Linked DNA regions of Homo sapiens: region 1 is linked to region 2. Evidence: fine-mapped expression QTL. A gene starts in region 2. The other region holds a variant in brackets. All regions are shown on one strand. Distances are from middle to middle. Region 1 overlaps UTP20 (UTP20 small subunit processome component). Region 2 holds the start of ARL1 (ARF like GTPase 1).

Region 1 (2,917 bases), 43 kb before region 2:
TGAGTTGTTTGGTGCTGTTGCTGAAGAGAAGGAAGTAAAGCAGATCCTCTCCAAAGTCATGGAAGCACGAAGAAGCAAAAGTTACGACTCTTATGAAATCCTCGGCAAGTTTGTAGGAAAAGATCAGGTTACAAAACTCATCCTTCCATTAAAAGAGGTAAGGACGTAAATGCAATTCTGGAGATCACAGCATTACAATCTCATGAGTTCCTAAAAGGAACCATGCGGGGCAAACTGAAACACTGTTCTTGATCACCCATGATTTCCTTTGGTGATAGGGCCCCAGGACCATATGGCCAGTGAGTGAATGCTTTGATTCAAAAATCATAGTCCCCTATGTAAACCATGAGATGAGAAAGAAAGGCAACAAGAATTGAGTGCAGGTGAATATTATAGCTGGGTCAAGTCAGCAGCTAAGAACATGAAGAAATCCAGAGGCACACAAGCCGCATAGTGCTTATCTTTGAGGTTGAGGTTGTGAGTAACATTTCCTTATATGTTATGTCCATGTTTGAAATTTTATTAAGAATTTGTTTTAGGCCAAGCATGGTGGCTCACACCTGTAATTCCAGCAATTTGGAAAGCCAAGGCGGGAGGAATTGCTTGAGCCCAGGAGTTTGAGACCAGCCTGGGTAACATAGCAAGACCCTGTCTCTATTTAAAAATGTATATTTACATTTACAAAGAAATTCATTTTAGTTAGGAGTAAATATATATTAGAAAGCCTTTGGACAAATTGCCACTTCCAGGTTGCCAAGAGGAAGAAAACTGGCATTTATTGACATATTATATTCTAAGCACTGCTACATTATCTCTCCTAATCTGCACACCCTGTGAGATTGATGGTACTTCCATTTTACAAATAAGAAAATTCAGGCTTGGAAAGGTAGAAAGGAACATGGTTAAAGAGAAAAGTCAGGGTATAGGGTTTAGTTCCAGATCTTTCTGATCCAAGTTCACATTCCTACCATGGTTTCATTCTGCCTCCTGAAGATCAGGGAATGTAATTTACCCACCTTCCTATTGATTTCTGTGCCTGTTGCAGAGGTGAACATCCAGTAAATGTTATTAATTTATTAGTTTTGTGTATTAAAACTAGAGCAAAGAGCACTATCTATTGACATGAATTACATTAGGTCTAAATGTTCTGGTGCTAGATGAACTCCATAATTACTCCTAGAATGCATTTAGTTTTATGTGAGCCTTATCTAAGAATGTTAGATGCATTTTCAGGATGAAAAAGAGTCAACAGAGCACATATATCCGTGATGTATATTAAAAAGTCCCTCCAAGGTATTGAGAGTTAATACCATGTCTCATGCAAGATAATAGCTCTGAAGCACCAAGTATTTC[C/G]TGAGGTTGCTGATCCTGGTTCCCATTAGGTTCCTCTGATTTGGCCCAATAATTGATATCAGACCCTGAGGCTTGGCCATAGTAGCACTTCATTCTCGTGGTTTTCTATGAGGAGTGAATACATTTTGTTGATTGTGTGTGTGTGTGTGTGTGTGTGTGTGTGTGTGTGTGTTTGCCTCTAAGTCACCCCTGTTAATGTACCAGGAGAGTTGATGTTAACTTAGAAGTCTCATATCTCTGGCATTGTGCCCTGAGGCCTCACCAGCAGAGAACAGGGAGGGAGTGGAGGAAACCCCGAGGCTCACAAGCCTGCACAGTGGTTCTTCCTGGGATTGAGATTATAGTTAACTTTCACCTTATATGTTATATCTGTGTTTGAAATTATATTAAGAATGCTTTTTAATTAGGAGAAAGCCAAACGTATATTAGAAAGCTAATATATAAAAGAAAACTGCCATTATGACAAATCAAAATGCATTTCTGTGTCATCTCAGCATGACATTTATGTTTTGCCTTTAGATCTTACAAAATACCACGAGTTTGAAACTGGCCCGGAAAGTTCATGAAACTTTACGCCGAATCACAGTGGGATTAATTGTAAATCAGGAAATGACAGCTGAATCCATTCTATTACTCAGTTATGGTTTGATCAGTGAAAATCTTCCCCTGTTAACAGAGAAAGAAAAGTAAGTTGGAAAAAAAACAAACTGTCATTTAGGTCTCTGCGTCTGATAAGCCATTCTGTGGGTTGTTTTAATAATTTGCTTTAGTAAAAAATAAAATTATATCCACCTGAGTTCTCAGATGGTACTTTATGGTGTGATACATTTCAACATGAGATTTTCTCATAAATGAGGTAGCAGTGACAACAGCCAATTATTTTGGCATTTCTCTGATACCATTTTTTAAAAAGATTTATTGATTCAAAGATAGGATAGATTTTAAATCTGTATCTTGTATTTTGATTAAACAGAGATTGAGACCTTAAAAGATTTTAAAATATCTTACAGGCTGGGCACAGTGGCTCATGCCTGTAATCCCAGCACTTTGGGAAGCTAAGGAGGGCAGATCACCTGAGGTCAGGAGTTCAAGACCAGCCTGGCCAACTTGGTGAAACCCCATTCTCTACTAAAAACACAAAAATTAGCCAGGCATGGTGCTGGGCACCTGTAATCCCAGCTACACAGGAGGCTGAGGCAGGAGAATCACTTGAACCCGGGAGGCGGAGGTTGGAGTGAGCCGAGATCGCGCCACTGTACTCCAGGCTGGGCAACAGAGCAAGACTGTCTCAAAAAACAAAATCTTATATATTAGTAAACTTCATTTTGGTCTTGCTTCTATGGTCTAAGAGAGACTCGTTGGCATTTATTTTCAGAAATCAAACAAGGGAGTATCCTGCTGTTGATCCTAATATAAATATGTTGTCCTAGTAACCTTAATCAACAGCCTAATAATCTCTTCTGTATCTCATGGTTTGGGGGTTTGGGGAGGGGCAAAACCCAAGCAAATGGCACATTATTTAGTGCTGGGCTCTCGTCACTTTAGAAGGGCCACTCTAACTTCT
Region 2 (2,917 bases):
TGCATATTTTTCCTCCCAATGAAATATATTATTCAATATCAAACAAGTAATTAGTTATGTTACTATGTCCTTAGTTATGTTACTATTGTGTCATGCAGGCACAGAAGATAAACCAAATAATAAGAGAAATATGGCCGCGGCCTTTGGGAATCTCATTTTCTAATCAGCAGAATAGGAATATTTTAGCATGATCCCCTCACTACCCCTAAAAACCAAGGGGCCAGTAAGGAGGATAGTGGGACAATGTAATCCTCGCACAGGAAAAGTACTGTACAGCAGCAGTACCACTATAACCAACTTCAATCAGAGTTCTCCACGAAGCAATATAGCTAGTACAAGAAATTGAGAAAAAAGCTGAAAACAATAACTATTTTTGACAAAAAACCCACTTTTAAAAATAATAAAGCTCTATCCAATGCATCACAAAATATTCCCAGAAAGCTTCCTGTACACCAAGTATTGTGTAGGATAAAAAGCACAGTCCTTTTCCCATCCAGAGCCATTAGAGAAGATTAAAAACAAGTTACATTAATACAAAAAAAAATAGTTAACATCAGAAGTGATGCCACACTGTTATTTGGCAAAGACATGGCATAACTAAGAGCTGCGAGTTGAAAAATGAACAACACCATGGGCTAGAGAACCTTGGGAAAGTTCAACAGAATAGGTGTGACTTGACAAAGTCCTTTCTACCATTTACAGGTAGAAGAGAGGCGGAACAAAACTGAAGGCGGTTATGGAAGACAGGACAGCGCCTGTGATGCTTGGGAGCAAGAAGTATGCTCCCCAGAAAACTGTGGAGGGATTTAACCAAGCCAAAGAATCTGCACCTTCATTTGGAGGGTGAGAAACGAGTTAAAGAATGTGCACCCTCACTTGGGTTCTAGCGGGGCGAGGGTGTTACCTGATGCTTGTGAGAATGCAGTTCCCTCAATCAGCGGGCCAAGAACCAAGAATAAAGTTTCATTTGCCGACTAGAAATACCCGTATTATTACATGAAACGCTACAGCAGATTAGCAGACAAATGCCAAACTGGCCATAAAACAACATAAGCAACACCTGCTCTCAGGTTTTTCAAACTGACGCCGTCCCAGCGCCCCTGGTAAAGAGAATGATTAAGCTTCCACTCTGGGGCCGCAGCTCATCTTTCACCAAGAAACCTCGGCGAACCTGCGACTGACGCGTTGCCAGCCTCCGCAAGAACAACTCTGCCCAGCAAGTGGAGCTGGGGATGAGGGAAAACTTCATGATAAGGGTAAAGAACTCGAACCCAGGCTCTGCGGACGTCCCCAAGCTGTCCGGGTCCCTGGACCCCGCAGGAATCAAGGGGAACCGAGAGAGGACGGAGGAGAACGCGAGAGGCCGGATCCACCCCTACAGATGAAGATCCAAAGTGAGTCAAGTCCTCCGCGACCCGCCCCCTGAGGAGCTGGCTACTCTAGGGTATCCTGGCCGGCCCCTCTCCTCCTCTGCACCCCAGCCCTCGGCCGCGGCTCCCTCGAGCGCGCCCAGGTGCCCTTCTCGAACCCCTCACCCATGATGAACCCCCTGTCCTCCCTCGCCGATCTTCAGTGATTCCTTGGCCTTCGGCTGCAGCTCCGAGGCGGTTTCCTCGCAAGCCCAGTCAGCCAGCAACTTCCACGTCGGACTCCAGGCGGGGGCGGGAGCGAGGGTCAGCTGCGACTGCGCGCCGGGAACGGTGGCCTGAGCATCCGCGTCGTCGCTTTCGACTCACGGTCCCCGCTCACTGGATGTAGATACCGTGGAGGCCAGAAGAGACGAATAATTCAAAAACCTGAAGTCTCTCCTGCTTGTGTTTTTCTGGACAGAAAGAGCTTCTGAAATAGAGAAATTGGAATTTTTGTTTTAAATTCTGACACCAAAAAGTGGCGAATCTGACAACTGAAAATGCGAGTCGGGCCTCGATGAGTCGTCCCGGTCGAACGCTGGCGCAGGCTGCGGCGTTGCAGAGGACGCGTGTCCCGGAGCGCCCTGCGGGGCCAGCCCAACTCTCCCTAGGTGCTTTCTCCCAGAAAGAAACAAGACTACGTAATAATAATAGGAATGGTACCGCGCTGCCAATGCGGAGCAGCCTTGCACCTGAGGCCAGTAACCAGAGGTTTTTGTCTTCGCTGTGGCCTGCAGGACGAGGACCTCGCCGGCTTTTTTTCTCGCTGACCGAGCAGCTGAGACCGCCTTTCAGGGGTCGGCAGTGTGGACTGGCTGGTCCCGATCGTGGGGACCAGGGACTTATTCCCTCGAGGGTCGACTGTTGGAAGTAATGTAGGTTTTGATAGTGAAGTGTGTGGAGAGGAAGAAGGAAGCACACCTATAGGATGTGGAGAAGGGATTTCCCCTAGAGAAATTTTTAAAGGTTGAGCATGTATGTTTTGAAACTTCCCAAAGATCCATTGAAAAGTGAACCTTCCGGCCGGGCGCGGTGGCTCACGCCTGTAATCCCAGCACTTTGGGAGGCCGAGGCGGGCGGATCACGAGGTCAGGAGATCGAGACCATCGTGGCTAACACGGTGAAACCCCGTCTCTACTAAAAATACAGAAAATTCACCAGGCGTGGTGGCGGGCGCCTGTAGTCCCAGCTACTCAGGAGGCTGAGGCAGGAGAATCACTTGAACTCAGGAGGCAGAAGTTGCAGTGAGTCGAGATCGTGCCACTGCACTCCAGCCTGGGCGACAGAGCGACACTCCGTCTCAAAAAAAAAAAGAGAAAAGTAAACCTTCCATCCCTAATACCCTGTATCTCGGTGATCCCCAGTAGTCACTACTGTTAATACTCTCTTAGGTTTTCTTCCAAATCTTATTAATACCTTTGCATATTATGTTTTTATTTATGGTAGAGATTTTCATCCATTCAACAGAAGCTTATGGACTGCCTTTTTAGTTTATTTTAAAAGAATTT

What was found. PIP is the estimated chance that this variant, and not a neighbour inherited with it, causes the effect.
Region 1: its variant is fine-mapped to the expression of ARL1 in whole blood (INTERVAL, PIP 0.98).

Annotation. Positions count from the first base shown.
Region 1 is chr12:101,363,587-101,366,503 of GRCh38, forward strand. UTP20 (UTP20 small subunit processome component) reads left to right here. Exons shown (of 62, transcript NM_014503.3): 45 at 1-157; 46 at 1,873-2,039. Among named protein-coding and RNA genes, the nearest start is that of ARL1, 43 kb to the right of the region's middle. The variant C/G (reference allele first, on the strand shown) is at 1,354.
Region 2 is chr12:101,406,107-101,409,023 of GRCh38, forward strand. It overlaps ARL1 (ARF like GTPase 1), which reads right to left and starts at 1,666. Exons shown (of 6, transcript NM_001177.6): 1 at 1,536-1,666. The coding sequence starts at 1,539. RefSeq lists enhancers at 1,149-1,198, 1,279-1,328.